Linked DNA regions of Homo sapiens. The protein of the gene in region 1 interacts with the protein of each later gene in a biochemical or structural test. Each region holds a gene or a part of one and is shown on either strand. Other genes may lie near its edges. The genes, in order: NANOG and PRKCE.

Region 1 (3,820 bases):
TCTGCAGATCCCTGGCCCTAATTGAATCTCAAATTCTCACCCTTGGTTCTTGTCCTTAGCTCTTGTGACTACGCCAGTGTTATCAGAGGACATGTAAACACTGCTACCCTTTCTACTCCACATGCACCTTATCCTAAATGGATTAATGTATCCCATCTTTTTGCCTGTTTTGTTCCATGTATTTAATTGATTTAATACGATTCTAGCATCTTAATTTGATCTGTGAGCTTTTCTGTTTCTTAATAGTTTGCTTGGTAGTATCATCAGAGGTAGTGCTACCACTGCATTGAAGTAATTTCTCAGATGCTTAACCTTCTAAAATTCTCAAGCACACTTTATTCAAGGACCACAGAGTTTACACCAACTACCCAGAAGCCAGGAATAGCTTAAGGAGAGACTCACCACCAGCAGCTTCTTTTCAATCAAGTTTCACTTCAACCTCACACCCAGGAACCCATTCAAATTCCTACATTTCGGTATCCTTAGTCGAACTAACTTCCTGTGCCGGAAGCTTTTGTCTGTCCCAGTGACTTCTTTCTTTAACAAATTCCCTTCATCTCCCCCTTGAGTCAAAGCCCATGGGGGCCCCAGGAGGCATGCAATATTTACCAAGGGCTCTCCCCCACTTTCCTGCCTCTGTCTGGCAGTTGTTTGCCTTTACTTTTAGGTTTGTAGTCACAGCCTGTATTTTTTCCTGTAGACACACCAGGTTTTCTGAACGGTAGAATTACTCAGAGTAGAATTAACCTTGTCCTTCACCCCGAGAACTGAGCTTGAAATTCACTAATCAAGGCCTGTATTCCTCCCACTTCTGAGTTTTAAATTTATATTATGAAATTCGGAAAACCCAGGCAAATTCAATCCATGCTTCTCTCCTTCAGGTACAAACTGAAATGAAAATGAAAGCTGAGAAATCAAAATAATGAATTTTAAAAACTAAAATATGGTAAAGCTACTAAAATATAGCATTGGAAGTAACACACACCTCCTTTTGGGAAAAGAAAGGAAAATTTTCTAGAGAAAGGAAGAAATGTTAAACAGAGAGCCTTGTACTATCCTTTTTGCCTAATCTCCTATTATTTTTGTTTATTTTTGAGACAGTGACGCTCTGTCGCCCAGGCTGGAGTGGGGTGGCATTATCTGGGGTCACTGCAACCTCCCGGGTTCAAGTGATTATCCTGCCTCCGCCTTCCAAGTAGCTGAGATTACAGGCGCAAACCAAGACCTCTGGCAAATTTCTGTATTTTTAGTAGAGACAGGGTTTCGCCATATTGGCCATGCTAAACTTGAACTCCTGACCTCAGGTGATCCACCTGCCTTGGTCTCCCGAAGTGCTGGGATTACAGGTGTGAGCCACGGCACCTGGCCCACTAATCTTACTGCTTTTGACTGTAGTTATTATTGTTACTTTAAAGATTATTCCAAATAGATCTCTAAATTCTTACCTGCCAAGAGGTTGAAGATTAATACTGGGTGATTAAAAAAAAAAAAGTTCAGAAAACATAATACAGGGCTAGGCTGGTGACTCATGCCTGTAATCTCAGCACTTCGGGAGGCCAAGGCTGGTAGACTGCTTGAGCTCAGGAGTTTGAGACTAGCCAGGCCAACATGGGGAAACCCCGTCTCTCCTAAAAACACAAAAGTTAGCTGGCATGGTGGTGTGCACCTATAGTCTGGGCTATTTGAGAGACTCAGGCAGGAGGATTGCTTGAATCCGGGAAGTCGAGGCTACAGTGAGGTGAAATGGTGCCACTAAGCCCCAGTCTGAGCAGCAGAATAAGCCCGTCTTAAAAAAATAAAAAAGAAGGCTGGGCACTGTGGCTCATGCCTGTAATCCTAGCACTTTGGGAGACCGAGGAGGGTGGATTACCTGAGGTCAGGAGTTCGAGACCAGCCTGGTCAATACGGTGAAACCCCATCTCTACTAAATACAAAGAATTAGCTGGGCATAGTGGCAAATCCCTGTAATACCAGCCACTCGAAAGGCTGAGGCAAGAGAATCACTTGAACCTGGGAGGTGCAGGTTGCAGTGAGTAGAGATTGCATCATTGTGCTCCAGCCTGAGTAACAAAAGTGAAGTTCCATCTCAAAAAAAAAAAAAAAAATTGCCCAGACACGGTGGCTCACACCTATAATCCCACCACTTTGGGAGGCCGAGTCAGGTGGATCACCTGAGGTCAGGAGTTCGAGACCAGGCTGGCCAACATGGTGAAACCCCATCTCTACTAAAAATACCAAAAATTAGCCGGGTGTAATGTTGGGTGCCTGTAATCCCAGCTACTTAGGAGGCTGACGCAGGAGAATTGCTCGAACCCAGGAGGCGGAGGTTGCAGTGAGCCAAGATTGTGCCACTGCACTCCAGCCTGGGCAATAGAGAGAGACTGTCTAAAAAAACAAACGATAGGCCAGGCGCAGTGGCTCACGCCTGTAATCCCAACACTTTGGGAGGCCAAGGCTGGTGGATCATGAGGTCAGGAGTTCAAGACCAGCCTGGCCAACATAGTGAAACCCTGTCTCTACTAAAAATACAATTAGCTGGGCATGGTGGCTCACCCCTGTAGTCCCAGCTACTTGGGAGGCTGAGGCAGGAGAATCACTTGAACTCGGGAGGCGGAGGTTGCGGTGAGCCGAGATCGCTCCACTACACTCCAGCCTGGGCAACAGAGTAAGACTCCAGTCTTAAAAAAAAACAAAATAAAACAAAAAAAAAACACTTGGAATTAGACTGGATAGTCTTAGTAACATTGGACAATTGGGGAAATAATGAGAGAAAAGACTGGAAAAAACCACTCTGATAACCTGCATCATGCTGCTTCAGAGTGAAGGGACGTGCTCTCAGATCAGATACATTTAGGGCAGGCACAAGATGGGAAAAGGACAGTAAAGGATTATTAGTATAATTCACAGATGCCTGCGTAGCTGCTCTTAAGGTGAGAACATAAATCTGTTTCAACTAGCCTTAGAATTTACTTACATATAGGCCTCTGATGAAACTTTAAATGTTAGCATCAATTACAGATTCATACACGGAAATAACCCATTACATTTGTAGATGCACATGTACAATGCACGTAAGTGCCCTTTTTTCTAAAACTGGCATATTTATTATTCATTCATTCTAAAACTGGCATATTTATTTATTATTCATTTATTTACTTATTTATTTATTTATTTTTGAGATGGGAGTTTTGCTCTTGTCGCCCAAGCTGGAGTGCAGTGGTGTGATATTGGCTCACTACAACCTCCACCTACCAGGTTCAAGCGATTCTCCTGCCTCAGCCTCCCAAATAGCTGGGACTACAGGCATAGGCCACCACGCTCAGCTATTTCTATGCATTTCTAAGATAGCAGTGTCCTCAGCTAATTTCCTTCTCCACCCCAACCAAAAATTTAACAAAGATTTATGTTTAAGCTGTATATTTACTCATTGAAACACTCGGTGAAATCAGGGTAAAATCAACTAAAGGAAAAATAGTTGTTTCATTCATTTGAACTTAAACCAACTAAAGCAGTACTCATGTCATTACGATGCAGCAAATACGAGACCTCTTTCTACAAAGATTAGCACAACCAACAAATTAGGGGATATAGCAAAACAGAGCCAAAAACGGTAAGAAATCAATTAAGTATGTTACAGCTTAACCCTTTACCTCAATAGTTTTTAAAAAATAAGCAAAGCCTCCCAATCCCAAACAATACGAATACATCTTCATCACCAATTTGTACTTGTATTTCTTATTCTTGAGGTTAGATTCTAAACCCTAAAGATATCCAAACTAGTATTAGATCTACTTATCTATAGCCAGAGACGGCAGCCAAG
Region 2 (3,820 bases), on another chromosome or scaffold:
ATCCTATCTTAGCTCAGAGGGGTGACCCTGGGCAGACTGCTTGCTTAACTTCCCTGTACCTCAGCTTTCACGGATTTCAAAAGGGGACAGGTAACATCACTTGCTTGACACAGTACAAGCATTGTTACATCGTAGAGATGGCTGTGCTGAGAAAGCATAAGGGGTTTTCCCATGTGAGGGATGATTCCTAGGGCAGGGTCAGTCTCTGTATTATGTATCTAAATCCAGCAGGACTGCATGAATTTCCAGTGTACCAGATCTTTTCTGATTGGCTCTTGAGCCACAGTGATGCTGTCGTGGACACAGGTGGGCGGTGCCCACCCTCCCTCCCCTCCTCTCTGTTCTCCATCACAGGTCCCTGATGAAGACAGGCCACAGGTAAGGAAGGTATGGAAGTGGCAGAGGTGATGTCAGCACAGTTGAGTTGCTTCTGTTCCCTCTGAAATGCTGGAGGACACAGATGTACACAGTGCCTCATCTCAGGAAGCACAGACATGCGCTCCTCTTCCCACCAGAAGAGCAAGTCATCTCAGGCCCCATTCTCTTGGCAGCAGTCCTCTGCACTGTGCCTGAACTCCCAGTGGCAACTGCCCTTAATCCTTCCCATTCCGTGGTGATGAGCAGAGGTGGGAGGGAGAAAGCTGGACAGAGAAAGGGAGAAGGGAGTGTGTGTGTGTGTGTGTGTGTGTGTGTGTGTGTGTGTGTGTGTAGGGGGAGGAGCCCAGGAGAGCACAGCCATGGGTGAGGGGCAGTGACTCACAGCTTTCAAGATGCTGACAGCCTCCTTGCTGAGCCAGACTGGGTACAGCACGTCGTCATGGAGGATGGACTCAAATAGGTCGTCCTCATTGTCGGCCTCAAAGGGAGGCTGTCCAGCCATCATCTCGTACATCAGCACCCCCAGGGCCCACCAGTCCACGGAGGGGCCATACTCCAACTCCTGCAGGATCTGTTCAGGAAACCAGCAATGTCAGGCACCATCAAAGGCTCCCACCCCAGTGACACCCGTGCTACGAACGCCCATGGGAAGGACTTCAATTCCAACTTGCTCCTCCCTACAGTTGAGTCCTAGTCCTAGAAGTTCTAAATCAGCAAATTCAGTGACAGTTGAGTTTGGAGGCACTATGCTGGGGGCCAGCTATCATCTTTCCAAAGTCAACATCGACAGTCTGTCTTCCAGTGGGAACAAATTCCTATTTCTTTGAGCACCAGATAAAGTTCCTGACTGGCATGAGGGCCACATTTTAAAAAACTGCATATTTTGACACTAAAATCAGGGTCAGGGGAGCACGATGCATACTGAGAGAACAAGCTGTAAGTGACTCAGAGTGCAGCGAGGTCAGGTCTCCCATCTCACACAGTCCAGGGCACAGCTCACTGCCTGAGTGGAAAGGTGAGCAGAGGTCTTCTTTAAATGGTGCAACACTCAATTTACCTGAGCCCTGTGCTCCTGGAGAGGAAACTGCAATGAATAAGTCTCCCCCACCCTGTAATGGTCTCCCTATAAAGGACCACTATACTCTTGCATATTCTAAGAAAAAACCCATCTCTATTGTTCATCATGATTCCCATAAGATCCACTGAAGAATCCCCCACTTTGCCTGCCTCTACAAAACCGTAGGCCCCCTTCCTTTGGGGCCACCTTCACTAATGAACCCCCTATTGCAATAGCCAGAATCGAACCATCTCCTTGATTGTCTGGTGCATTTTGTCTTTGACAATGGTCACTTGTCTTATCTATGCTGTCTCTCTTTTTCCTCTAGCCAAATATGTAGAGTCAAATTCACTTAGATTAAATGCATGTATGACATGATGCTACTGAATACAAGACATCTTTTCTGGCTGGGCGCAATGGCTCACACCTGTAATCCTAGCACTTTGGGAGGCTGAGGTGGGAGGATCACTTGAGTCCAGGACTTCGAGACCAGCCTGGGCAACATGGTAAGACCCTGTCTCTTAAAAAAAATTAGCTGGGCATGGTGGTACGTGTCTGTAGTCTCACCTTCTCAGAAGGCTGAGGTGGAAAAATCACTTGAGCCCGGGAGTTTGAGGCTGTAGTGAGTCATAATCATGCGACTGCACTTCAACCTGGGTAACAGAGTGAGACCCTATCTCAAAAAAAAAAAAAAGGATCTTTTCTGATTGGCTATTCTATTTGATCTGCTCTCCATACACATATGTCATAAATACATGATACACACACACGCACATATAAATATGTAGCATGTCAATGACATATATATATAAATACATATATATAAATACATATATATAAAAATACATATATATATATATGGAGATGACATCCAATAGAAAAGACTAGAATTTAATATCACCTTTCAGCTGTATAGAGCTTTGTATTTTACAGTATGCCTTTAAAATATAACATATATAAATAAAATAAATATGTAGCAGATCAATGATGTGTTTGGCTCAGAGGAAAAATAAATGCTGAGCTGTCCACTCTACAAGGAAGAGATCATGAGGTGACATTCCCATTCCACAATTATTTTCTCTTCTTATTAGAGTGGGATTAGGCATGGCTCTGCCCAGAAACAGGAGGGTGGATGAGATGACCTATCCAGGTCCATAATTCTATAAAGAATTTTAAAAAGGGAAGGAGAAACAAGGTTGGAGTGCATATCCTGCAAGGGGGAACACTTTGAGGACCCTGAAAAAAAAAGGCAAAGTTCATGCCTAGTCATTCCAGCCCATGGGACACCTTGGGCAGATAATATCTCAGGCTGGGGACAAGGCTCCAATTTAGTTCTCAGATTTCATGGTGGCCAGGGAAGAGGAGGCTGAATTCAAGTATCTGGACTTTCTGTGGTCTGCTCAAAATACCCTTCTAGAGGTTACAAATTGCTTAGGATGAACTAGAAAGATTTGGATAGAAGAAGCATTTAGAAACAGTTAAAACACTCACAGTTTAGAATCTTCTGAATTTGGAATGAAAAGGAATTTGAGAAAATGCAGCCAACTCTACATTACTTGGGGCTGGTAATCTGTTTAGCTAATACCTTTGGTCTAAGCCCAGTGGTTAGTGTTCCTTGAGCTGTAAGGTCAAAGCTATGGGCTCCACTGTCCTGAGGAGCCAGTGATTCTGCTATGCTCCAAAGCCAATGCCAACTCCTCCCTCAACCTCAAAAGACACAGCGCCCAACTTAAGACCCCTGCCTGTTCCTACGAGTTGCAGGCACTTTCTCACTTTCCACATACCACTACGTCGTTAGTTATTTTTTCATGGCCAGCGGTCTCCCCAGTGCAACTATAAGGTACCAGAGGGTAGGAGCTGTAACATGCTACTGAGCCCAGTGCTGTGGCCAGCCTGTTCTATCATCCAGGAGACAGTCAACATCTTGTGACTGGCTAGCATGCATGGCCACTGTGTGTATCTACTGGGCATGCTCCCTTCTCTTCTAGCCTCAGGGCACACTGGGTGCTACAGTGGCTGCCCTCCAGCTTCTCGGAAGGAGGCAGCTGGGTTCTGTGCCTTCAGGGGGTGGGGAGAAGGTGGCTTGTGTGTGCTGAGACTGGATGGTGCTGTGGAAACCACAGAGCCGCCCTGCCACCCCACTCCAGGCCCCTTCCACAGCCTTCTCATTTTGGGTGGCATCTTTTGTAAGATTCCTTTTAGGCTTGGCTCTAATTATCTGCTTCCTAATTAACTGTCGGCAGTGGATCTGGGCAGAAGGGCAAGGCTTCCATGTCACGGGAAGTCACCTGGAGCCAACCCCTCAAGTGCGTCAGAGCTCGGGAGAAGGGAGAAGGGAGAAGGCATTGGCCCTGATGATGCTATTACCAAAGGCTGGTGGCCACT

The links.
Region 2: of the proteins of NANOG (region 1) and PRKCE, one has a biochemical effect on the other in vitro, tested with the Homo sapiens proteins (one study listed by BioGRID).

What each region holds. Positions count from the first base shown.
Region 1 is NC_000012.12:7,795,643-7,799,462, reverse strand, and holds the end of NANOG (homeobox protein NANOG), read right to left. Parts: 3' UTR 317-3,820; downstream 1-316. UniProt on the Homo sapiens protein: Transcription regulator involved in inner cell mass and embryonic stem (ES) cells proliferation and self-renewal. Imposes pluripotency on ES cells and prevents their differentiation towards extraembryonic endoderm and trophectoderm lineages.
Region 2 is NC_000002.12:46,148,170-46,151,989, reverse strand, and holds part of PRKCE (protein kinase C epsilon type), read right to left. Parts: intron 950-3,820; coding exon 761-949; intron 1-760.